4 separate regions of the Homo sapiens genome follow, and all the other regions are linked to region 1. Evidence: fine-mapped expression QTL. A gene starts in region 1. Each other region holds a variant in brackets. All regions are shown on one strand. Distances are between the middles of the regions. Region 1 holds the start of HECTD2 (HECT domain E3 ubiquitin protein ligase 2). Region 2 overlaps HECTD2 (HECT domain E3 ubiquitin protein ligase 2). Region 3 holds the start of HECTD2-AS1 (HECTD2 antisense RNA 1). Region 4 overlaps HECTD2 (HECT domain E3 ubiquitin protein ligase 2).

The links.
Region 2: its variant is fine-mapped to the expression of HECTD2 in whole blood (TOPMed, PIP above 0.99). The same link has a PIP of 0.9 or more in blood mononuclear cells.
Region 3: its variant is fine-mapped to the expression of HECTD2 in skeletal muscle (GTEx, PIP above 0.99).
Region 4: its variant is fine-mapped to the expression of HECTD2 in blood mononuclear cells (TOPMed, PIP 0.94).

The regions. Positions count from the first base shown.
Region 1 is chr10:91,407,182-91,413,025 of GRCh38, forward strand. HECTD2 (HECT domain E3 ubiquitin protein ligase 2) reads left to right here and starts at 3,163. Exons shown (of 21, transcript NM_182765.6): 1 at 3,163-3,395. The coding sequence starts at 3,258. All of the region lies in intron 3 of HECTD2-AS1 (HECTD2 antisense RNA 1), which reads right to left. RefSeq lists an enhancer at 2,570-2,779 and a silencer at 2,930-3,519.
Region 2 is chr10:91,488,032-91,493,875 of GRCh38, forward strand. HECTD2 (HECT domain E3 ubiquitin protein ligase 2) reads left to right here. Exons shown (of 21, transcript NM_182765.6): 12 at 3,169-3,276; 13 at 4,321-4,453; 14 at 5,389-5,477. All of the region lies in intron 3 of HECTD2-AS1 (HECTD2 antisense RNA 1), which reads right to left. Among named protein-coding and RNA genes, the nearest start is that of HECTD2, 81 kb to the left of the region's middle. The variant C/T (reference allele first, on the strand shown) is at 2,902.
Region 3 is chr10:91,608,694-91,614,537 of GRCh38, forward strand. It overlaps HECTD2-AS1 (HECTD2 antisense RNA 1), which reads right to left and starts at 2,767. Exons shown (of 5, transcript NR_024467.1): 1 at 2,658-2,767. The variant G/T (reference allele first, on the strand shown) is at 2,788.
Region 4 is chr10:91,500,551-91,506,394 of GRCh38, forward strand. HECTD2 (HECT domain E3 ubiquitin protein ligase 2) reads left to right here. Exons shown (of 21, transcript NM_182765.6): 19 at 1-67; 20 at 641-784. All of the region lies in intron 3 of HECTD2-AS1 (HECTD2 antisense RNA 1), which reads right to left. Among named protein-coding and RNA genes, the nearest start is that of HECTD2, 93 kb to the left of the region's middle. The variant C/T (reference allele first, on the strand shown) is at 3,078.

The sequences.
Region 1 (5,844 bases):
ATTTATTTATTTATTTATTTATTTATTTATTTATTTATTTATTTATTTTTGGTATTTTTAGTAGGGACAGGGTTTCACCATGTTGGCCAGGCTGGTTTCAAACTCCTGACCTCAAGTGAGCCACCTGCCTTGGCCTCCCAAAGTCTTAGGATTACAGGCATGAGCCACCACACCCAGCCAAGTTATTTTTTAAATAGTAATTTTAAAAATCCACAACCATTATACCTAAGAAAGAGTTCTAAAAATCTTTTTAACAAGGTCAACATGGCTAAAATAATTTCCCCAAGTTTACTTTAGGACAACATTCAGTTGAAATATTAAAATAAGTTGCACTATTTCATAGCTATACCTTCTAAAATTAAGGTATTAGTGGTATAAACCATTCTAAAATGACCTGTGCACCTATTTTGCTATTGTTCACTACATTAGTATTACTATACATAATTAAAATAGAAGTTATCTATAATTTCGACCTTCCATTACCTTGTAATTTTGTCTTTCTTTTTCTTCCAGGGAAATAATGAGTTCTCTAACCCTCACTCCCACCCTGCCAAACCCTATTCCCCATAGGTATAATTAATGAGCTCAGGTCTTCCATCTGGACTTAGAAACATGAAATGCTTCTTCTGCCTCGCTCCTAGTTTTTCCAAAGCGAATGAGTTTATACTTGGATACCCTCACTGTTGCACGTCTGACACTTGGCATAGCTAAAAAGCATCTTCTCCACACCTCTGTACAGAATGGCCAGAGCTCTCTGTATGTCCTGCTTTACAACACTCTCTTCTCCCACCTGGGTCTCCAGAAGCACACTGATGGCAGTTGGGAATGTGTCTCTCAAGCACACCACGAGTTCCCCCAGAGCTATAATTCTACAGCTTTCCAGCAGGCCCCATTCCCATTCTCCAGCCCCCTCCTGGACTATGTATGAGGGAGGGATGAGGTGGTGGATTGAGGACATTTATTTAATAAGAAGTCAAAGGAAACATGAACAAATTATCATTTTTTACATGGAACTCACAAGCTAATTAATCAGAGAATTTGTTAAGAAATGGGTTATCTACTCTGGTGCAGTAGCAGAAATTAACATTTTTGACTTGCCTTGTTTTGCCAATATTTAAGCAGTTTGTTCTATTGAATGTGACTACATGTACAGACACACTTTTATTTAGTCTCACACATGAAAAAAGAAAGCAGAAGGCCTGTTATCCAAGTGGTTTCTCATCCAAACATTTTTATAGCAAATTACTAAATCTAGTTGAAAACAATAGGAAAGAGGATACTTTTCCCTCTAGTATTTGTTCTATCAACCTAGACTTAGCACAGAATATCTGAAATTGCAGCTAAAATAAAGGCTTCATTTTATAAAATAACATTTGAGTTGTTCCTGTATCCATGATCAGCATACAGACCTGCTAAAAGCAGAAAATAATGTTATGTTCCTCTCTATGGGATGAGTATTTCAGTAGTTTTAAGGAAAGAAAATCCTGAAAAAGAATTTAGAAAAATATTAATAGAAAGGAGGAGGATGCTTCAAAGTAATGCCGACATACATCATTTTCCCTCCAAGGCTATTAGCACTGAAATACTTTTTGCTGACTATATGGCACTTATTCTATACCTTTTGTTAATTAACAAGTAAATAGGTGGCAACAGCAACTATATTAAAGTAGAAAGCCTTTCTATAAATGAAAGTCAGAATTCAAAATTTAGAAGGCAACATTGTTTGCTTCAGATCTACTTGTTACAAATTGTGGGTTTGAAAACATGCAACCTTATCTCATGATGCACCATAACTAGTATTTAGTTATACTAATAACTCCAAATTATGTAAACAATAGATACCCCGAAATCATATTTGGGTTTGTTTCAGAGATATTTTTGGTTCTTATATTTGGACTTAGGTACTCTTGATCTAAAAATTCACTCAACCTCCAATAAAATAATGAAGGCACAGATAAAAAATCTGATAGAGCTGAATATCGAAATTCCTTGCTTTTAACAGGCGATACAGCGCATTCTTACTCTCTTTTCTCCTAGATCAGCAGGTGTCCCCGCCGCTCCAGTAGACTGAGAAAAAGGAAAAGGAGGGGGCGACAAGAAAGGAAAGGAAATTGTCTAGGTGTCCTGGTGGTGGAGGTGGGGGGTATTTTAATTTCATAATTAAAAGCTCTCTTCTTCGGCTTTCAAGTTTTTACTCCTATTTGTAATGATTTGATTGAGGACTGTGCAGCAGAGTTTGGGTATGTACATCTCTAACATAAACGGAAAGGAACAAGGAAGGGACGGATAGGAGACAGCAAAGGGTTGCGGGGAGAGAGCAAAACGTAGGCGCGTGGGGACGGGAAGGGAGAGGCGGATTTGGCAGTCAAAGAGGGACGAGAGGAACAGGAATGGAAAGTGTGGACTGGCCGTCCAATCCTATGGGGGAAGGGGAAAGGGGGGGCCCACCACGTCGCACTCCTCCCCACCTCCAGGCTTTTCCTGTGTAGGCTGAAGCCATCCAGGCGTGTACAAAAGAGTCGGTTGCTGAGCCAGGAAGGCTGTCTCCCCGGGCTGCGCAAGCTCCGGGCCGCCTCTCCTGGGCTCAGGAGGGCGGGCAAGGATAAGAAGGCAGAAGCCCCAAGGCGGACAGCTTTGTGGGCGCCTGGAAGAAGGCGAAAGGCCACCAGCCCAGACCCCGAGGGCGCTTGCCCGCGGGACTCGGCGCCGCAGGCCAGGGCCGTCCGTGAAGGGTAGTCTGTGCCTACGTCCTGCCCTACTGGTACCACTCGGACACTCTATCCCCGTCCGACCCTTTGCAGGGCTCGACTTGTCTCCCCGACTGCCCGTCCTTAGTCCAGGTTCTCCTGCGCGGCCCGGGTGCGGGGTCTCCTCGTCATCTCGGGCGACACTCTGCAAACAATATGGCGGTCGGGCGTCGACCGTGGCGCCTTCTCTCCGGGCCCTCGGGGTTGACGAGGGGGACTACCGCCGGCGCTCCCGACCCGCGACGCGCGAGCCCCGGGCGGGCGGGGGAGGCGAGAGCAAGAAACCTGTGGGACCTGTGGGGAGCCGCGTCCGCGGGGCTGGCGCGCGCGGGGGCGGCCTCGGGCTCGCGCGCAAAGGCGCGGGCGCGGGCGGGGGCGGAGTGGCGGCGGCAGCGGCGGCTAGAAGCGGCAGCCCAGAGCCCTCTCGCGGCCGCGGCGGCAGCAGCAGCGCCAGCCCCAGCAACACTGAGGCCGCCGCCGCCGCCTGGCGCTCCCGCCGCCCGGCCCGACATGAGTGAGGCGGTTCGGGTACCCTCGCCCGCCACTCCGCTGGTGGTGGCGGCGCCCGCGCCTGAGGAGAGGAAAGGGAAGGAGTCAGAGCGCGAGAAGCTGCCGCCCATCGTATCGGCGGGCGCCGGCGCGACCGCGGTAGGTGGTGGGCCGGGGCCGTCTGGCGCCCCGGACGGCGGGAGTTGGGAGGGACGGCGGCCGGGCGAGGGCCGTCAGGAGGCCTGCGTTTACCCTGGGCACGCCCTGGCACTCCAGGGAGACGCACTCAGGCCGCCCTTCCTTGGGCAGAAATAAAAGAGTTGTGCCTCGTGGACAGCCCCGAACACTTCGCGAGGTACACCTACCACCCTCGGGAAATGTTGGGGGTGGTCGGTTCCGCTGGATGTTTGGGTTATTTTCTGGGGCTTGGGCCCCCACTTTCTCTAAGAGAATGACCTGCATCTTGAGTCGGCATGATCTGTTGGATGAGCATAGGTGTCAGCAGGCGGGAGTGGGTTTTCCACGGAGGTGCCTGCCTGCCTGCCTGCCTTGGAGGCGCGCAGATTTTTGTCCTTTTCTTCGCTTTTCTTTCCCTTCCCCCTTCAGATTAAACAGGCTCTGCGGCGAGTTTCCACTTAATTGTGACCTTTCCGTTGCTGTCAGTGTAGTGGGAGGTAGATGCATCAGTGATGGTTTTATTTTTCATATGGTACAGACATGTGACTCAGGTGGGGGGAGGCTTTTTGAACCTTTTATTTAAACCCAAGTTATCTAAGCTTGACAGGGATGATTTCCCAGCTGTATCTTCGTAAGGGTTATTTGGAGAGCGCTGTCAGGCTTCAAACTACATATTGCCAGATGATGTCATGGGACAGCCCCCTCCCCCTCTTTCCCTATTTTTACTGGTGGTTGTGACTGGTTAATTTGAAGCACAATTTAAAAAAAAACCTCGGATTTTGCAATTTTTTATTTTGACATAATATTTAAGTACTTTTTGAAAGTTTGCTTTGATATATTTAAAGATCATGACTTGTCATGCAGCTGTGTGTGACAAAATAGTAAAAGTTTAGTGAACATTATACATTTTCTTTATTCCTACTTGCGGTTCATTTCTTAAAACCTCCCTCTTAAATGACTAAGAACTTACTAAAATAGCTCACTCTTCGTTAAGTACTGTATTGGTGTTAGGAATAATTTTCGGATTCGGTAGGTTTTTCAAAAATGTCTGAGGGCCCTGATAACTGGAAATTGTTAAAACAAGCTCTTTAAATCAATGCAGCAAATTGCGAACAGTAATGATACACGTTTAAAAGCGTAGCTACAATTGATTGGTAGATTGGAGCTGGGGTTAGGGATTACCCTAGAAAATGCTTTGAAGGAATTTGTCACCCAGCTGCTTGGAGACCTGGTTCCTGCTGCTGGTACCCTAGGTTTTCAGATTTTATATAGGAAGTCTTTAACTCACAGAATTCCAGCAGTTCATTTCTAAGTTGGTTGTTTAAAACAGTAAATGTATGTACTTATAGAAACAGTTAAATGAGTGGGTTTAGGTCCTCAAGCAAACGCTCTCCCAAAAACCTATTCATCTCATAACTGAAAAATTGCCGTTTTGGAATTTGCAAGTGTGGATACAAGTCTACAGTCTGCTTTGGGATTTCAAGTTTTTCAGATTTTAGAAAGGTAATTCGGTACATATATCATATATTATTTAATACCCACAGTAAGGTCCTAGCCAGTTCTCTCTAATCAACCATCTTAATAACTGTAATGAAATTATGTGTTCATGCTAAAGGGAAAAAGTCAGTAGCGTCATGTCATTTCAGATTAGGTGCATGTTTTTGCCACCAAATGAGTTGCAAAGACACTTCAGTTTCAAGAATTTATAGGACTTTGAAATTGTAAATAGAGGATTATGGACTTGTACTACTAGACAAAGAGAAGAATATATTCAAGAAAAAAATTTAAATCTTGAATTAAACTTTGAAAAGGTATGAGTTGGAATAGAAGAGGATAAGGATAAATATACAAAACTTGAGGGTTTTTTTTTTTTCTTTTTGAGACGGAGTCTTGCTCTGTCGCCAGGCTGAAGTGCAGTAGCCTGATCTCGGCTCACTGCAATCTCTGCCTCTCGTGTTCAAGCCATTCTCCTGCCTCAGCCTTGCTTGTGCCTTATAAAGTCTTTCAGAGTCAGTACCATTGATTATTTATTTTTTAAAAAAAAAAACAATTTATGACAGGATCTGTGGCAGAATGTGTGTGTGTGTGTGTGTGTGTGTGTATTTGTCAAAGAGAGACTTCAAAGCTAGAATTCAGAGCTAATAGCAGTGAAAAGCTTAAGTGTAGAAAATCTATGCTTGGTCCTTAGTCCATCCAAAGGATAAGAAATCCAGGAGAACTGGGGTGGTGATTGACTTTTACAGCAGCTAGGAAGGCCTTGGTATGTGTGGGGAGGGGGAGGAGGTCTTGATGTGTGAGGTAGGTGGGCAGGGAAATACAGCTTGTGGCCTCTTGAGTTGTTTTTCAGCCTCCTGTAGATTAAATAGAGCTCCTAGAGGTTTGCTTAGGAACCTAATTGTCATCAATAACTTTTTCTTTGAGACATTCCAGT
Region 2 (5,844 bases), 81 kb after region 1:
AATTACTGAGAGCTTGTTGGACCTCGTTTTGCAGATACCATACCACCAACCTTAGATAACCAGCAGAGCATTGAGAACTGCGGTGAGGCAGAGTGTCATTAGGCAAACCACTCAAACTACTGAAACATTTTCTAGGTTTTATGAAAATCAGAAACAACCGAAAAATTAGAAAATGTAACAAAAAGTGTGTCTTGGAGAACTGAGAAATATGCCCAAAGAAGGTGAAAGATGTTTTATTGGTTCTTAGGAAACCAAAATGCATGGAGACCCAAAGAGGCTGGGGATAGCAAGCAGACTGAGTTTAGGCAAATTGTAGAGCAGTATGAAGTTATCTCTCAGTCTGTCCTTACCACTTCCTATCCCTTGTGTTTCAGCTCAGCACAGTAATGTACTTTATCTAATAAATATCAGATTCAGTGAGGTTTTTCTGTTAGAGCTCTAAACTATTTGTTTAAGTGCTTATGTATTTCAAACATCTGCTTGTGTTACATGATTGCTCACAATTTTAAAAGAGGGAAGCTTGGCTGTGGTCTTCTTAATTGAAAAAGGAATATAGAGTAAAAAGAAATGATTTCCATCTTGTTCAAGAGTATAAAAAGAATCCTAAAGCATAAATTGTAATACTTCAAAATGCTATAAAAAATAAGAATGTTTATTCTTCAGTAATTCAGTTCCCAGAAGGTGAGTATTTCTTTCTATCACAGAGAAGGACAAAAGATTTGAGTAACTGGTGACATCCCAAAGTCATCTTATACTGAATATGGGAATATTAGAAGAAATTTTATTGCCTATGCCCATCAAGGGAATTCCAAAGCCACACTACCCCCCTGAAGAATGAGTTTAAACAGGTATATTCAGCACCAGAATTGTTACTTGATCTTGGGTAGATATTGGCTCAATGATTAGCTGTATAGCTACTCATTCTGACATTTTCTGTTAGTTGTACTCGTACAATGTCATGTGCCTTTTTAGTATTTTTTCACCTTGGTCTATGATTTTTTTATATTTGTAAGAAAATCTACAGTGCTTTTGTACGTAACAGAATGAGCTAGTTTGTGTTAAACTAGCAAGACTAAACAGTTTTTTCTGTGTCACTCACAGGATATCAAATATCTTTTTGTGGAATTTTTCTTCTACTTTAAAGAAGGAGAATGGCAGGTGTAGACTCTGTGACAGGCTAAGTTTTCTACAGAGCATGCAAACGAATGAGTAGACACTTGACATTGAGAGCTAAGTGGCATTATCAGTTTTTTATGGGTGTTTCCCAACATTTTATCTCATAAATTGCCATATCACTTGGAATTAATGACTGATGACTATTTTGACACAAGGACAATCTTACAAATAGTCAGTGTAAGCAAGAGCTTATATGGTACAATCTAAATATACAAAATTGGTTTCCTAACCTAAAATAAGTTCCTCAGTCACAGTGTCAAGAATTGTATCATTGTTGGGTTATTTTTTCATTTGGAGCATTTTCCAGTAAATATGAATTCCTGATGGGAGGAGTAGCTACTAATCTTGTTTGCCATTAGCATCCTAGCATAAATTTGTTTATTAGTTATTTCCAATGTGACAGCTGCCCAAGAGCTAGACTGGGAACAGAAGATAGGAAAAGGTAGGAAAAAACGGTCTGTAACACAGGACACTATGCTAGGAATGCAGACTTCCTTGATAAGTGAGGACACAGAAATAAAAGGCTGTTAATAGCATTTAGCGTTGTATATAGGAGAAATGGAGAAAGCTCCAAATTAGTGTTTTATTATAGTAATCTTCAAAATTGTAAGTAGCCTTAAATTGTAGATTTGTGATACTAAAATTTTATCTATTAAAGCAAATTGCTGCATGTATTTAAAATGTCTGAAATGTTTATCTTTAATCTGCACAATAGTTTTCATTGTTACCAAAAAAAGATATAGTCTAATAAAGACTATTTAGATAAATATATAAGCCTGTGGATTTTATATGACAAATGACATATTCCTTATAGATATTTTTAAATATATTGTTTTTTACCTATTCAGTGCTTATATTTTGAAAAACGGTGACAAAAGAATTTTGAGTCACTCATATCTCTATCCCCCAAGCAAAGCCATTAACATTTTAGTAAATTTTCTTTTGATATTTGTTCTATATTATCTTTAAAAGACAACAGAGTTGAAATAGTACTGTAAACACAATTTTATTTCCTACTTTCTTCAGTGTACCTTCCTTGTACTATTTACATAGTTTTTATGACCATCCTTTTTTTCATTAGTTGTATATGTACTTAAGATATTTCTAAAGTTTTGTTTTTATAGATAATGCTGTGATAAACATTGTACTGTATAAAATATGTTCTAAGAATTCTCAGTGGAAGGATTATTGGGATAAAGGATATGAATATTGTGATGGTCTTTGATACATGTTGACAAGTCACTTTTGTAAAGTAGACTAATTGTACCTTTAAAGAAAATTCAATATCTAAAAAATCCTAAGTCCAGGTTTATCATCAGGAATATATACCTTGTTTTGAATGTTCCCATTTTATATTTGTATTTATTAAACAGAAAACTTTGCTATTTAAGAGATGAGACATGGCCGGGCGCGGTGGCTCACGCCTGTAATCCCAGCACTTTGGGAGGCCGAGGCGGGCGGATCACGAGGTCAGGAGATCGAGACCATCCTGGCTAACACGGTGAAACCCCGTCTCTACTAAAAATACAAAAAATTAGCCGGGCGTGGTGGTGGGCGCCTGTAGTCCCAGCTACTCGGGAGGCTGAGGCAGGAGAATGGCATGAACCCAAGAGGCGGAGCTTGCAGTGAGCCGGGATAGCGCCACTGCAGTCCAGCTTGGGCGAAAGAGTGAGACTCCGTCTCAAAAAAAAAAAAAAAAAAAAAAAAAAAAAGAGATGAGACATA[C/T]GGAAACTGTGATGCAACATTTTTTATTACAGAAGGTGAATTATTTTTGGTCCTCCACTTTGGATCCCCTTTGGTTATCATTGTTACAAAATGAAATAATAATAAGCCATTTTCACAAATCAAAATGTGTATAATTGATTTTTATAAAATTGTTTATATAAGAAATGGCATAGATAATAATTGTTATTTTTACTAAAGTGTTTAAATGTTTTAAATGAAATTATAGTCTAAGTAAAAGCAAAACTGTTTACTTTCTTATTTAATCAGCAAAGTCTGGTGGATAAAGTATCTCGAAGACAGAGACCTGATATGAATATATTATTTCTAAATATGAAAGTAAGACGGACACATCTGGTTAGCGATTCACTTGATGAGGTATAATTTATTCCAAAATGATATTAATTAAAGCTTAAAATTCTATAATATGATTATTATAAAAATCATAGTAAACTTTTTTATTTCTGTATGCCAATAAGTGTGCTTCCTTAAATTCTTTTGAAGATCTTGTTGCATACCAAGCTTCTGTAAAGTTTGATACCATAGTTAAAATCAGATCTGTATTCATAATTGTCTTATATTCATGTTTGTATGTTTATTAATAGTTTGTTAATTCCCTAGAAAAGGATTTGATGTAGAACACTTAAATGAGTAATTCATGTTTCTTAGTATATAACCTAGATTCCAGACCCACCTTTGTTCCTGGTTATGTGTGTAACAAGTCATTTAACTTCTCCAGGTCTCAGACTACACATCTATAAAATTAGAGGTCTGACCTACAGGGTATATTGGGTCTATACAGGTTCTAACATACTTTGATTGCATTTTCATGTATTATCATAAAAAATGCTTCAGCTAGATCTTAATATGGTTATTAGAAGATAATGGCTGATTCCGCTATGTGATTTATTTATTTATTTATTTTTGTGACAAGTTTTATTTTGTCACCTGGGCTGGAGTGTAGTGGTACAATCAAAGCTCACTGCCGCCTCAAACTCCTGGTCTCAGGGTCTCAAGCCATACTCCTACCTCAGCCTCCCAAATAGTTGGGATTACCAGCTCATGCTACCACACCCAGCCCTAGCTATGTGATTTTTTAAAGTTTAGCATTGAAGGGGAGTTTTTTTTAAAAAAAGAAATGAATTATATTGTGCTAAATTAAAAATTTGAAGGCAGTAGATACCAGGAGGTAGTACTTTGGGTGAAGTACCTGACCTCTCTAATTCTGTTTCCTGATCTATAAGACATAGTAAACACCTAGCTCACACAGTGTCTGGCAGATTTATTGGATAAATGGAGGGATGGAGTTTTGTAGCATTGCAAATAAGTTAAAGACTGCCTAACACATTTCCCAGAATTAAAAATGTTAATTCTCTTTTCACTGCTCTTTGTTCTCCTCTACTGTATAATATCTTCAAATAGCTAACCCGGAAAAGAGCCGATTTGAAAAAGAAGTTAAAAGTTACATTTGTAGGGGAAGCTGGTTTGGATATGGGTGGTTTGACTAAAGAATGGTTCCTTCTTCTAATTCGCCAAATTTTTCATCCAGATTATGGTAAGTATGTAATCTAATTTTTATAAACTGTGTTTCTTCATAATTGTTAGAGTGAAGTAGTCACCCTTATTTTTAACCTATTCTGTGATTTTACAGACTTTTTGTCCATCGTAAATGTTGAATAATTGTTTAAGGACTGTTATTTACATTTTAAAAACTTGTTTGACCGAATTGTTGATCAGTTGATTCTCTTACTGGGAATCCTACACAAAATGTATCAAGATTAAAAGTAAACATTTATGAGGAAACATCCATATCTTTTCTGAATAAGTCAAATGCATGAAAATTTAATTTGTCATTGAAATAAACATTTGAAATTAAAACACAAAACTATAGTTTGCTCTATAGTAACATTTAAAGCCTCTTTCATTAATGGGTCATTTTAATAAATAAGAATTCATGAATTAATTTTTTAAGAAAAAATAAGCCTTTGAAATTTTTTATTTTACAGAAACTACCTGTATAATCCTTACTATCTGTTAAACTTTTCAAAGGAGAATTTTCAGTGTTTTCCTTATTCTTTAGTTTTCTTTTCTATATGTGTATGTGATGGGAAATAGGGATGACAGTGATAAATTGAAGTCTCCAGATATCCTCAAAATTAATTTTGATCATAATTTATAATCTATGAAACTATACTTTTTATAAAGTTATCTGATTCATTTAGTTTCTATCTTTTTACCCTGTTTCTACCCTTGGTTCAGGAAAATAAAATGTTCTCCATATATATTTAATATATATATTTATATTTGCTGAGATTTGCAAATATATAGTCCCATAAATAATCCAAAATTTTTAACTTGAAAGATGGTTTGTAACAGAATTATTGTTGAATTGATTAGCTTCTAATAGATGAGATGTCATGTACATGTTTACCACTTTGATTTTTTTAAGTCAATCATGTTAATAATAACATTATTCGTGTGTTTTTTTAGGCATGTTTACATATCACAAGGATTCACACTGCCATTGGTTTAGCAGCTTTAAATGTGATAACTATTCTGAATTCCGATTGGTTGGAATTGTATCCTTTAAACTTTCCACTAGGAGGTGCTAATAGATTAGAGATTTTTAAAGATTTTATCTGTATTTTAGAAAACTGTTTTCTTTAGCCATTTTATCCAAATTAAATGTTATTGTCAAATGTACTATTAGATTTTCAGTAATCTTCATTATGTGTAATATATGTCAGTAGACTTAATTGAAAGAAATGAGAGTTTGATTTTTTTCTGAAAACCTTATCTCAAAATAAAAATGGTTCTTTCCTATTTCACATATAATTGAAGTTATCACTAATTTAAGGCATTTTTTAAAAAAAATCAAAGTATTTCCCATTTATAATGAAGTATTTTTTTTCTGTTCTTTCACTTTGTGCTCATTTCCCTCAGTTT
Region 3 (5,844 bases), 200 kb after region 1:
CCAGACAGCATTTAAAATGCACTTCAGCGCGTTCCTCTTTTATTTGGAAAGGAAACAAGTCTTGACATTCTGTTTCTCCCATTTCATTAAGGACAGAGGTCATCCCAGGAAGGGGAAGGGTAGTTTCCAAAGAGAACTTGTGAGGGAGTGGAGGTGGGGCAGGGGACGCTCTCGTCCCTTCTCGTTAGCCCACTTTACCCTTTGAAGAGAACAAGCCCAGCTTTCACAGTGAATTATTTGCAGGGTGGCTTCTGCCAGGACTGGGCTCTCGCTAGCTGAGGCAATACCCGGAAGGATTACATGATAGCTCAAGGACAGACAAGGTGTCCAGAAGGAACTGGCCGGAGGAGGTGACACTGAGACAGCCTGGAGATAAGGGGGTAGAAAAGGGAGAAGGGAGGAGGTAGGGGGTGTGTGTTAAATAGAAACTCAGAAAAAGCTAAACCTGTACATTTCTCTCTCTCTCTCTCTCTCTCTGTCTCTCTGTCTCTCTCTCTCTCTCTCTCTCTCACACACACACACACACACACACACACACACACACAGGCATGCACAGAAACACATTCTTTGCTTTCCCTCCCCATCTGTAACTCCCCAAGGCATTTCTATAAATAAACGATAGGCCCCTGAGCCTGCAATAGGACCATTATTAACTCTTGCAGTGTTCTGGCTATAAGTGTGTGAACACTTTTCCTCACTTCATGGTTTGCAAAGCCTTTTCCCATATGTAATCTCCACCTGACTCCTACATCACACACTTGAAAAGTCCTTTAGCTTCTCCTCATCATTCCCATATATAGAATTGGGCACCCCACACCCACACTCTCAAAGTTCTTAGCCTTAAAGCTGTAAGTTTCAAGTTGGCTACTCCAAAAATTTCTTATGGTTTGAGCCACATTATCTATTTTCAAAATTATCAAATATTGTACATATTTATGGGGTACAATGTGATATTTCGATATATGTATACATTGTAGAATGATCAAATCAAGCTAATTTAACAGGCTCATCAACTCACATACTTACGATTTCTTTGTGATGAGAACATTTAAAATCTATCTTTTAGCAATTTTGAAATATGCAATATATTATTATTAACTATAGCCACCATGCTGTGCAACAGATCCCCAGAACTGACTCCTCCTGTCTAAAAATGAAACTTCGTACACCTTGACCAACATTTCCCCATTCCCTATCTGCCCCCACCTATCAGCCTCTTATAACTACCATTCTACTCTCTACTTCCATGAGTTTGAAGTTTTTAGATTTCACATTCTAAGTGAGATCACATAGGATCTATCTTTCTGTGCCTGGCTTATTTCACTTAGCATGATGTCCTCCAGGTTAATTCATGTTGTCATCACAAATAACAGAATTTTCTTCTATCTTAAGGATGAATAGTATTTTGTTGTGTATATATACTAAAATTTTTATCCATTCATCTATTGATGGTCACTTAGGTTATTTCCATATCTTGGGTATTGTGAATAATGCTGCAATTCACATGGGAGTGCAGATATCTCTTCAACGTATTGATTTCAATTCATTTGGATGTACACCCAGAAGTGGGATTGCTGGATCATATGGTAGTTCTATTTTCCATTTTTTCGGGAACCATCATACCGCTTTCCAAAATGGCTGTACTAATTTACATTCTCACCAACAGTGTACAAGAGTTCCCTTTAATCCAGAGGCCTTTACATGCATAATGTCACTTAAATTCCACAAGAATCCTGAAGGGTAAACATGATCAAGGCATGTCAGAGGAGGAAAGTGAAGCTCTAATGTTACGTTATGTGACAGGAGTGTAGAGTATGGGGTGCAGTGTCTTGAACCCAGGTCTGTATAGCTATAGTGCACGTGTTCTTCACTCCTGCCCTGAGGTCCTCTTCCTAAAAGTTCTTTATCATCTAAGATTCCAGAGCATCTACCGGGGGGTTTAGTCAGACATCTGGAATGCCAGGATTCATAACCAATTAAGCTTCCCCATGCCTATAGTGGTGTCTTTTACTTTTCACTTCAACATTTATTTTGCCAGACTCCATACTAGGTAAAGTGGGTAAAGCAGTCAATAAGACACACATGTCCTGCTCTCATAGAACTTAAAGTCTGATTAAAAGAGACGATTCATAAATGCACACACAATTAAATAAATGGACCAATTTGCCAAGAAGCTTCAAATCCACAGAGAATAAACACAATGTAGTTTTCATTTTTTTCCACTATCCTTGACTTGCTATGTCAAATCATCTCCTCCTCTTTCCCCCCCTTTAAAATATCTCACAGTTTCCATTACTTCCTGTCACTTTCAGCTATTCAGTTTAGTCAAGACCAGTTTAAACCTCCATCTCAGATCTGATCCCAAGCCCTCTGCCCTCCCAGAGTAGCCAAGACTTGCTGCCACTGGGGCTTGGCATAGATCCAGGTGGGTCTGCTCTGTCTCTGTTCTCACCTCTCTACCCACCTCATCAGGATGTAGTTCCCTCCATGGCAGGGGTGGGAAGGGGAAGGGGTGTTTGAGCTCTTCCTCCCCAGGCCCCAGCCCTTGCCACTTGTAGCCCACCTCACAAACTCTTGTTGCTTGGAGACCCTCATCCAGAGGGTGGCTATCTTCGGGGGGCAGAGGGGGGCACAGCAAGTCAGCCCAGGCCCAGTACCTTCCTCAGCATTCTTTTGACGCGTGGGAAATCTAACCATCCTGCTGAGCCAAGCTGTGGGAAGGAGCCTGTGCCATGGCCACACCGTATTTCAGCCCTGCCTTCTCTCTCCAATGTTTCTCTTCTCCTG[G/T]GACAGGGCTGACAGCAGGACTGCTGCCCAGGCAGATGTCTAGCCAGTAAACATGACATTAGTGATCCCCTTAGCACCCCCAACTCTCCTTTGGCTTGGAGGAGGGAAAACCCCTGTTCCTGGTCCTGCTCCTGGGAATATGCTCACAAGGAACTCTGTACCTCCTCCAGGCTGAAAACTCTGAGCCCCTTATTCCAGCCCAGACTTCTCCTTACAGACCCAGGACAGGGGCAGGGTTGGTGGTATTAAGGCCAGTTCTGCCACTGCATTGCTGAAGGCTGGTTAAGAGCTCTCTTTAGAAAACCAGAGTGCTTAGCACTTTCTGGGTCACCTTTGGGCAATGGCAGCCATTCCAAGACAACAGAACAAAATCTCACTCACACCCTATTACATAGAATTCTAATTGTGAGATGTGTGAGAAAGGAAAAGAACAGGGTGCTATGAGAGGAAATGCCCATGCTCAGGATCACACTTCTGGATCTCAAATCCCAGCTCTGCCCCTTATTAACTGTGTGATCTTGGGCAGGTTACTTCGCCTCTCTGTGCCTCAGCTTCCTTATTTGTAAAATGGTGATGATAACAGTACATACCTCATAGGACGAAATGAGAAAATGTAAACAAAACTCTTAACATAGCGCCTGTCACATTAATAAATGCTCAGTAAACGTAAGTTCCCTGAGGGATCCAGGCACCTCACAGGCACCCAACAACACTTGATGAAATAATGAATGAGGTAGTGAGACCCCATCTCTACAAAAAATTAAAAATTAGCCAAATATGGTGGCACATGCCTATAGTTCCAACTACCTGGGAAGCTGAGGTAGGAGGATCACTTGAGCCCAAGAGGTTGAGGCTGCAGTGAGCTGTGATCATGCTACTGTACTCCAGCCTGGGCAACAGAGCAAGACTCTGCCAAAAAAAAAAAAAAAAAAAAAAACACAGAATTACACTTACACATAGATTTTCTTTCTTTCTTTTTTTTTTTTTTTTTTTTGAGTTGGAGTCTCGCTCTGTCGCCCAGGCTGGAATGCAGTGGCGCGATCTCGGCTCACTGCAAGCTCCGCTTCCCGTGTTCACGCCATTCTCCTGCCTCAGCCTCCTGAGTAGCTGCGACTACAGGCGCCTGCCACAGCGCCCGGCTAATTTTTTTTGTATTTTTTTTAGTAGAGACGGGGTTTCACCGTGTTAGCCAGGATGGTCTCAATCTCCTGACCTCGTGATCCCCCTGCCTCGGCCTCCCAAAGTGCTGGGATTACAGGCGTGAGCCACCGTGCCCGGCCTACACATAGATTTTCAATCCATATTAGAAAGGCTAACAAGGGCCATATTATGTGTAGTTTGAGAAAAGAGAGGGCAGGAATATATCTTACTTCTGTAGATTCAGTGCCTACCACGTAGTAGAAGCTCAGTCAATCTTTTTTTTTTTTTTTGCGTTGAACTGAAAATAATTATGTTATGCTGAAATCCCTCCCATGGAACCCAGGGGATATTGGTGAAATTAAACCACATAAAACTTGAGTAGTGTTAATGTTTTGTTCATAACTTTCATGAATTTTGCATATATTTCATGGCATTTACATTAAATTCATAAATAAAATCTTAAAAAATAATAATGAATGAGGGAGAATGGCTGGGAATACCTATTTTAGATGGGGTAGTCAGAGAAGACCACTCTGAGAAGGTGACACTTAAGCTTTGACATAGATGATAAGACAGAAGTCAGCTGAAGAGCAAAGGGATCATATTGCCCTGGAATCAGATTACAGAATAGACCTAGAAAATTCGCCTTTGACATTTTAATACCATGTATAAATACAGGGTTATAAGATATTATTCCCTCTGGACCAAAGATTGTCATAACACCCAGGAGCCAAAGTCCTCCAGATACCTCTGTCTCCATCACAGCAGCTCTAACTGTGCAGTTATTTGCCACCAAGGCAGTTCCTTTGGGGGTTTCTTTCCATTTTTTTAAAGTTGTTAGTCAGGACTTTGGTAGCAATGAGCTCAAGATCCTGGCTAGATGGTAAGTCAGATTTCACATGATCTAAACAGTCAGAGCCAGAGAGTGTCAGCTACCACAAGGAAGAGAGTATATCATAAATCCAGAGTAGACATATGAACAAGCAGTTTATAGACTGGGCTTACCCAAAGATTAATTTTGAAGGTCATATCATCCAACAGAGTACATAACTGGACACTTGAGTCTGTGCATGTCTCTGGTTACAGCTGGTTTTAGTTACTTTGAGTCTGGTCAGCATTATAAATGGTCAGCATTATAAATGGCTGGGATAAAGTATCTGCCGGAGGAATTGGCATAAGCATGTGACTCACCAGCCCCTCTGACTCATGGGACACACAGTTGTCCTGAGCTATTAATCCATTGACAGAGCATGAGTGAGACAGAGGGGCTGTGAGAAGCTGTACTGACAAATAGCCGGAAGCACCCACTGCCCATCGTTATGACTGTATCCTTTTGTGATATGGAGCATCGATATCTTTTGTTGCTGTGATAGGAAGTTTTTGGCATAGGTGTGGCCTGATCATTGTTTTCAAGCACACTAAACCTAGATGGTGATATAATGGAATTGTTGACACTGTTCCCAAGACAGCAGGATGTCTCCACCCTGGTTTGATGGTGTTCATTTAGATAAATAAGGGCTGGGATACTGTGCTAGGAGTCAGAAAGGCAGTGTGGTGTAGGTGCCTATTGTTGTAGGTGGTGGTATCAGCAAGGGGAGTTCATTACATGGTGCCAATTAGAATGTCCAAGGAGGTTGGTTTCCATGTTAAATAGGATTGACCTTTCTGTCACCCAGAAGCCCAAGTGTAAGCACTAAGAATCTAGAGAATAGCTGATCCTTCACAGAAACACCTAAGGATTTGGCTTTATTTCCGTGTCTGCAACAGCAGTGAGAGCCCAATGGAATGTTAGACTCAACTTGATGCAATCTGGCATCTCAAAATCGTAAAGAAGGTTTGAAACAACACATAAAAATGAACTACTGTCATGAATTCAAACCACATCCTAAAGGCTGCCAGAACAATGCTTTCAAATCC
Region 4 (5,844 bases), 93 kb after region 1:
TGGATATGCATGCTCTGCAGAGAAGTACTCAGTATGATGGCTATGCAAAAACGGACTTAACTATAAAGTGAGCTCTTTATACTTCTGATAGTGGGGGATGTGGAGAGGGAACAGCAGACAGTGTGGTTCATTTATTTGCATAACTTACAATCTTTGAATCAATTAAGTTAGTCAAAATATTAGAGAGTCCCACAGTCTTATTTTATCTCTGGAAAGTCTATGAGAATTTTAATATGAAATCACTCCCTTTGGGAGAAAATTCTATAAGCAAGTTTCTACAAAAGTGTAGAGATTTTACTTTTAAAAAAATGACTTTGCTCCTAGAATTTCATGGATGCTATCCTTGTAAATAACAGTTTAATAGCACTATGTTGAAAAATAAGACTTGAAAGTTATGCAGGAGAAAAATGGTTCCTGTACTATCCACTGCTGAACTTATATACTTTTATAAAAATATTATTTTATAATGTTAGTCAAAAGTCTAATACGTATATAGAAGCTCACCATTCCTTAATTTTACAGAAATTCAGGATATTATGTATGCTTAAGGAAAGTCCTTTCCTTAGAGCTTCCTTTATATTACTTTATTATAGGATTTTTGTCAAGACATTTGATGTTAATTTCCTTTGGTATTCTCTAGATACTTTTGGGATGTTGTGCTTGGATTTCCTCTTGATCTTCAAAAGAAGTTGCTACATTTTACTACAGGGAGTGACAGAGTACCTGTAGGAGGGATGGCTGATTTGAACTTTAAAATCTCAAAGAATGAAACTTCTACTAACTGGTAAATTTCTGGATCTAATTTTATTTTAAATCTAAAGGTTACTGCTAATACTGCTAATGATAATACATTTGGAATCAGGATGTGTACTCCGTTTGAAGTTATTTTCATAGAAAAATCTTCAGAGTAAACATGGCCTTGAAATGTAAGAGATTTTGATTAAAAGTTCTCTTACTAGTTTTTGAGACATACTAACTAATAATTCATTTCTAACAACTTTTTACTTTGCTAGGTCATATAAGTGCTTTGTAGACTCTTTTAGAACCTAGTTACTTTGTAGTAGTAGATTGTCTAATGTTCATTTTTATTTAAATGTGAAATGTGTTTTTTATTTTTAGGAAAATCATTAAGTTGGGATATCTGGTTTGTTTGTGGAGTTTTCTTTCTTTTCTAGGGGGTTGGGGGATACTATAATTATTACCAGAAGTACCTCTAATACTAATCCTCTTTTTTTTTTTAATCTCATGCTTTTTGTATATGAAGTGATGGTGATGATGGATTTAAATTATTTTCTAGCAGTGTTAATGCATTAATGCTTATCAACTTACTCCTTTTCCCAAATAACTTATAATTTCTAAAGCTAACTTGAATAGACATAACTTTGATTATAATCATTTTTGTCTCCTGCCCCATACATTGAACATTCCCTAAGTGCTCTTAGTTCTTCCTTTCATTTTAAAGCTGGAATCTGTTCTTTGCTTTTCCACTGCCTCTACCTTGGTAAAGTTACTTTTTATCTTCATTACTAGCTTATTTTATCCTATTAAACTCATGTGCTTTAACACTATTTAGATCATATTTCCGTGGGAAATAACTTTATTGCCAGTTTAAGTTCTAGAATCCAGAGACTGTAAAATAAAGCTCTAGTCTTCTACCCCAGGCTATCTACCAGTTTTCATTTCTTTCTATGCTTTAGTCAACAGGCTGTTTGCTGGTTCCTTAGATATATTTTATGCCTTTCTTCCTCCATGCTTTCAAGTTGTTCCCTTTACATGTGATGTGCCAGCTATGACTATTAAAGACACAGTTTAATGTTGACTTCCTCTGTAAAGCCAAAAGTCATTATGTATTGAGTTTCTCAAATATCTTGTAGAAGTTATGTGCTAGTTACCATGTTGCACTTTATATCTGAGTCATTTAGTTCTTCAAGAAAGAGGTTATGCCTTATACATATTTGTATGCTCCAAGTAATCACACATGGTAAGTGCCCAATAGCTATTTCTTCAATAGTATTTATGTCATCATCAAGATTATATTTAAAACACAAAATAAATATTTACATATATAATTAAATTTCTAAACAAAATTTACAATTAAAGTCCTAAAATGAAAAAATTCAAGAGGATTTTTTTAGATTATAGATTTTTTGCATAACAGAAGTTAATTTTTCAGAATATTTTATTTTATATTAAAAACATTTCCAATTTTAAAAGAGTAATCTGAGCAATCTGTTTTAATACAAAGGTGACATTACTTCTAAACTTTCCCAATAATTATTATTATTTCAAGAATATGTGAGCTAACATGGCTTCAACATGAATCTAGAACCTCTAGGATTCCCAGTGGAATCTCACATATATTAAATAAAGCTGACTATCAAAGACATACAACATTTCAATTTGACATAATAATGGTATGCCTCAAAAGACAAGGACAACACTCCAGCTGAAAGAGGAGTTTCCATTCATCTTATAAGGTCCACCATTGAATATTCATTCACTAGATTTTTGTTAAATAAGAATGGTAATTCCATTAAAAGGTGGGCAAAGGACATGAACAGACACTTTTCAAAAGAAGGCAACATGCAGCCAATAAGCATATGAAAAAATGCTCAACATCACTAATCATTAGAGAAATGCAAATCAAAACCACAATGAGATACCATCTCACAGCGGTCAGAATGGCTATTGTTATATTAAAAAGTCAAAAAATGAGGGAGGAGCCAAGATGGCCGAATAGGAACAGCTCCAGTCTACAGCTCCCAGCCTGAGCGACGCAGAAGATGGGTGATTTCTGCATTTCCATCTGAGGTACCGGGTTCATCTCACTAGGGAGTGCCAGACAGTGGGCGCAGGTCAGTGGGTGCGCACACCGTGCGCGAGCCGAAGCAGGGCGAGGCATTGCCTCACTCGGGAAGCGCAAGGGGTCAGGGAGTTCCCTTTCCTAATCAAAGAAAGGGGTGACGGACAGCACCTGGAAAATCGGGTCACTCCCACCCGAATACTGCGCTTTTCCGACGGGCTTAAAAAACGGTGCACCACGAGATTATATCCCGCACTTGGCTCGGAGGGTCCTA[C/T]CCCACGGAGTCTCGCTGATGGCTAGCGCAGCAGTCTGAGATCAAACTGCAAGGCGGCAGCGAGGCTGGGGGAGGGGCGCCCACCATTGCCCAGGCTTGCTTAGGTAAACGAAGCAGCCAGGAAGCTCGAACTGGGTGGAACCCACCACAGCTCAAGGAGGCCTGCCTGCCTCTGTAGGCTCCACCTCTGGGGGCAGGGCACAGACAAACAAAAAGACAGCAGTAACCTCTGCAGACTTAAATGTCCCTGTCTGACAGCTTTGAAGAGAGCAGGGGTTCTCCTAGTACGCAGCTGGAGATCTGAGAACAGGCAGACTGCCGCCTCAAGTGGGTCCCTGACACCTGACCCCCGAGCAGCCTAACTGGGAGGCACCCTCCAGCAGGGGCACACTGACACCTCACACTGCAGGGTACTCCAACAGACCTGCACCTGAGGGTCCTGTCTGTTAGAAGGAAAACTAACAAACAGAAAGGACATCCACACCAAAAACCCATCTGTACATCACCATCATCAAAGACCAAAAGTAGATAAAACCACAAAGATGGGGAAAAAACAGAGCAGAAAAACTGGAAACTCTAAAAATCAGAGCGCCTCTCCTCCTCCAAAGGAACGCAGCTCCTCACCAGCAACAGAACAAAGCTGGACGGAGAATGACTTTGACAAGCTGAGAGAAGAAGGCTTCAGATGATCAAATTACTCTGAGCTACGGGAGGACATTCAAACCAAAGGCAAAGAAGTTGAAAACTTTGAAAAAAATTTAGAAGAATGTATAACTAGAATAACCAATACAGAGAAGTGCTTAAAGGAGCTGATGGAGCTGAAAACCAAGGCTCGAGAACCACGTGAAGAATGCAGAAGCCTCAGGAGCCAATGCGATAAACTGGAAGAAAGGGTATCAGCAATGGAAGATGAAATGAATGAAATGAAGCGAGAAGGAAAGTTTAGAGAAAAAAGAATAAAAAGAAACGAGCAAAGCCTCCAAGAAATATGGGACTATGTGAAAAGACCAAATCTACGTCTGATTGGTGTACCTGAAAGTGACGGGGAGAATGGAACCAAGTTGGAAAACACTCTGCAGGATATTATCCAGGAGAACTTCCCCAATCTAGCAAGGCAGGCCAACATTCAGATTCAGGAAATACAGAGAACACCACAAAGATACTCCTCGAGAAGAGCAACTCCAAGACACATAATTGTCAGATTCACCAAAGTTGAAATGAAGGAAAAAATGTTAAGGGCAGCCAGAGAGAAAGGTCGGTTTACCCTCAAAGAGAAGCCCATCAGACTAACAGCGGATCTCTTGGCAGAAACCCTACAAGCCAGAAGAGAGTGGGGACCAATATTCAACATTCTTAAAGAATTTTCAACCCAGAATTTCATATCCAGCCAAACTAAGCTTCATAAGTGAAGAAGAAATAAAATACTTTACAGACAAGCAAATGCTGAGAGATTTTGTCACCACCAGGCCTGCCCTAAAAGAGCTCCTGAAGGAAGCACTAAACATGGAAAGGAACAACCGGTACCAGCCGCTGCAAAATCATGCCAAAATGTAAAGACCATCGAGACTAGGAAGAAACTGCATCAACTAACGAGCAAAGTAACCAGCTAACATCATAATGACAGGATCAAATTCACACATAACACTATTAACTTTAAATGTAAATGGACTAAATGCTCCAATTAAAAGACACAGACTGGCAAATTGGATAAAGAGTCAAGACCCATCAGTGTGCTGTATTCAGGAAACCCATCTCACATGCAGGGACACACATAGGCTCAAAATAAAGGGATGGAGGAAGATCTACCAAGCAAATGGAAAACAAAAAAAGGCAGGGGTTGCAATCCTAGTCTCTGATAAAACAGACTTTAAACCAACAAAGATCAAAAGAGACAAAGAAGGCCATTACATAGTGGTAAAGGGATCAATTCAACAAGAAGAGCTAACTATCCTAAATATATATGCACCCAATACAGGAGCACCCAGATTCATAAAGCAAGTCCTGAGTGACCTACAAAGAGACTTAGACTCCCACACATTAATAATGGGAGACTTTAACACCCCACTGTCAACATTAGACAGATCAACGAGACAGAAAGTCAACAAGGATACCCAGGAATTGAACTCAGCTCCACACCAAGCAGACCTAATAGACATCTACAGAACTCTCCACCCCAAATCAACAGAATATACATTTTTTTCAGCACCACACCACACCTATTCCAAAATTGACCACATACTTGGAAGTAAAGCTCTCCTCAGCAAATGTAAAAGAACAGACACTATAACAAACTATCTCTCAGACCACAGTGCAATCAAACTAGAACTCAGGATTAAGAATCTCACTCAAAGCCACTCAACTACATGGAAACTGAACAACCTGCTCCTGAATGACTACTGGGTACATAACGAAATGAAGGCAGAAATAAAGATGTTCTTTGAAACCAACGAGAACAAAGATACAACATACCAGAATCTCTGGGACACATTCAAAGCAGTGTGTAGAGGGAAATTTATAGCACTAAATGCCCACAAGAGAAAGCAGGAAAGATCCAAAATTGACACCCTAACATCACAATTAAAAGAACTAGAAAAGCAAGAGCAAACACATTCAAAAGCTAGCAGAAGGCAAGAAATAACTAAAATCAGAGCAGAACTGAAGGAAATAGAGACACAGAAAACCCTTCAATAAACTAATGAATCCAGGAGCTGGTTTTTTGAAAGGATCAACAAAATTGATAGACCGCTAGCAAGACTAATAAAGAAAA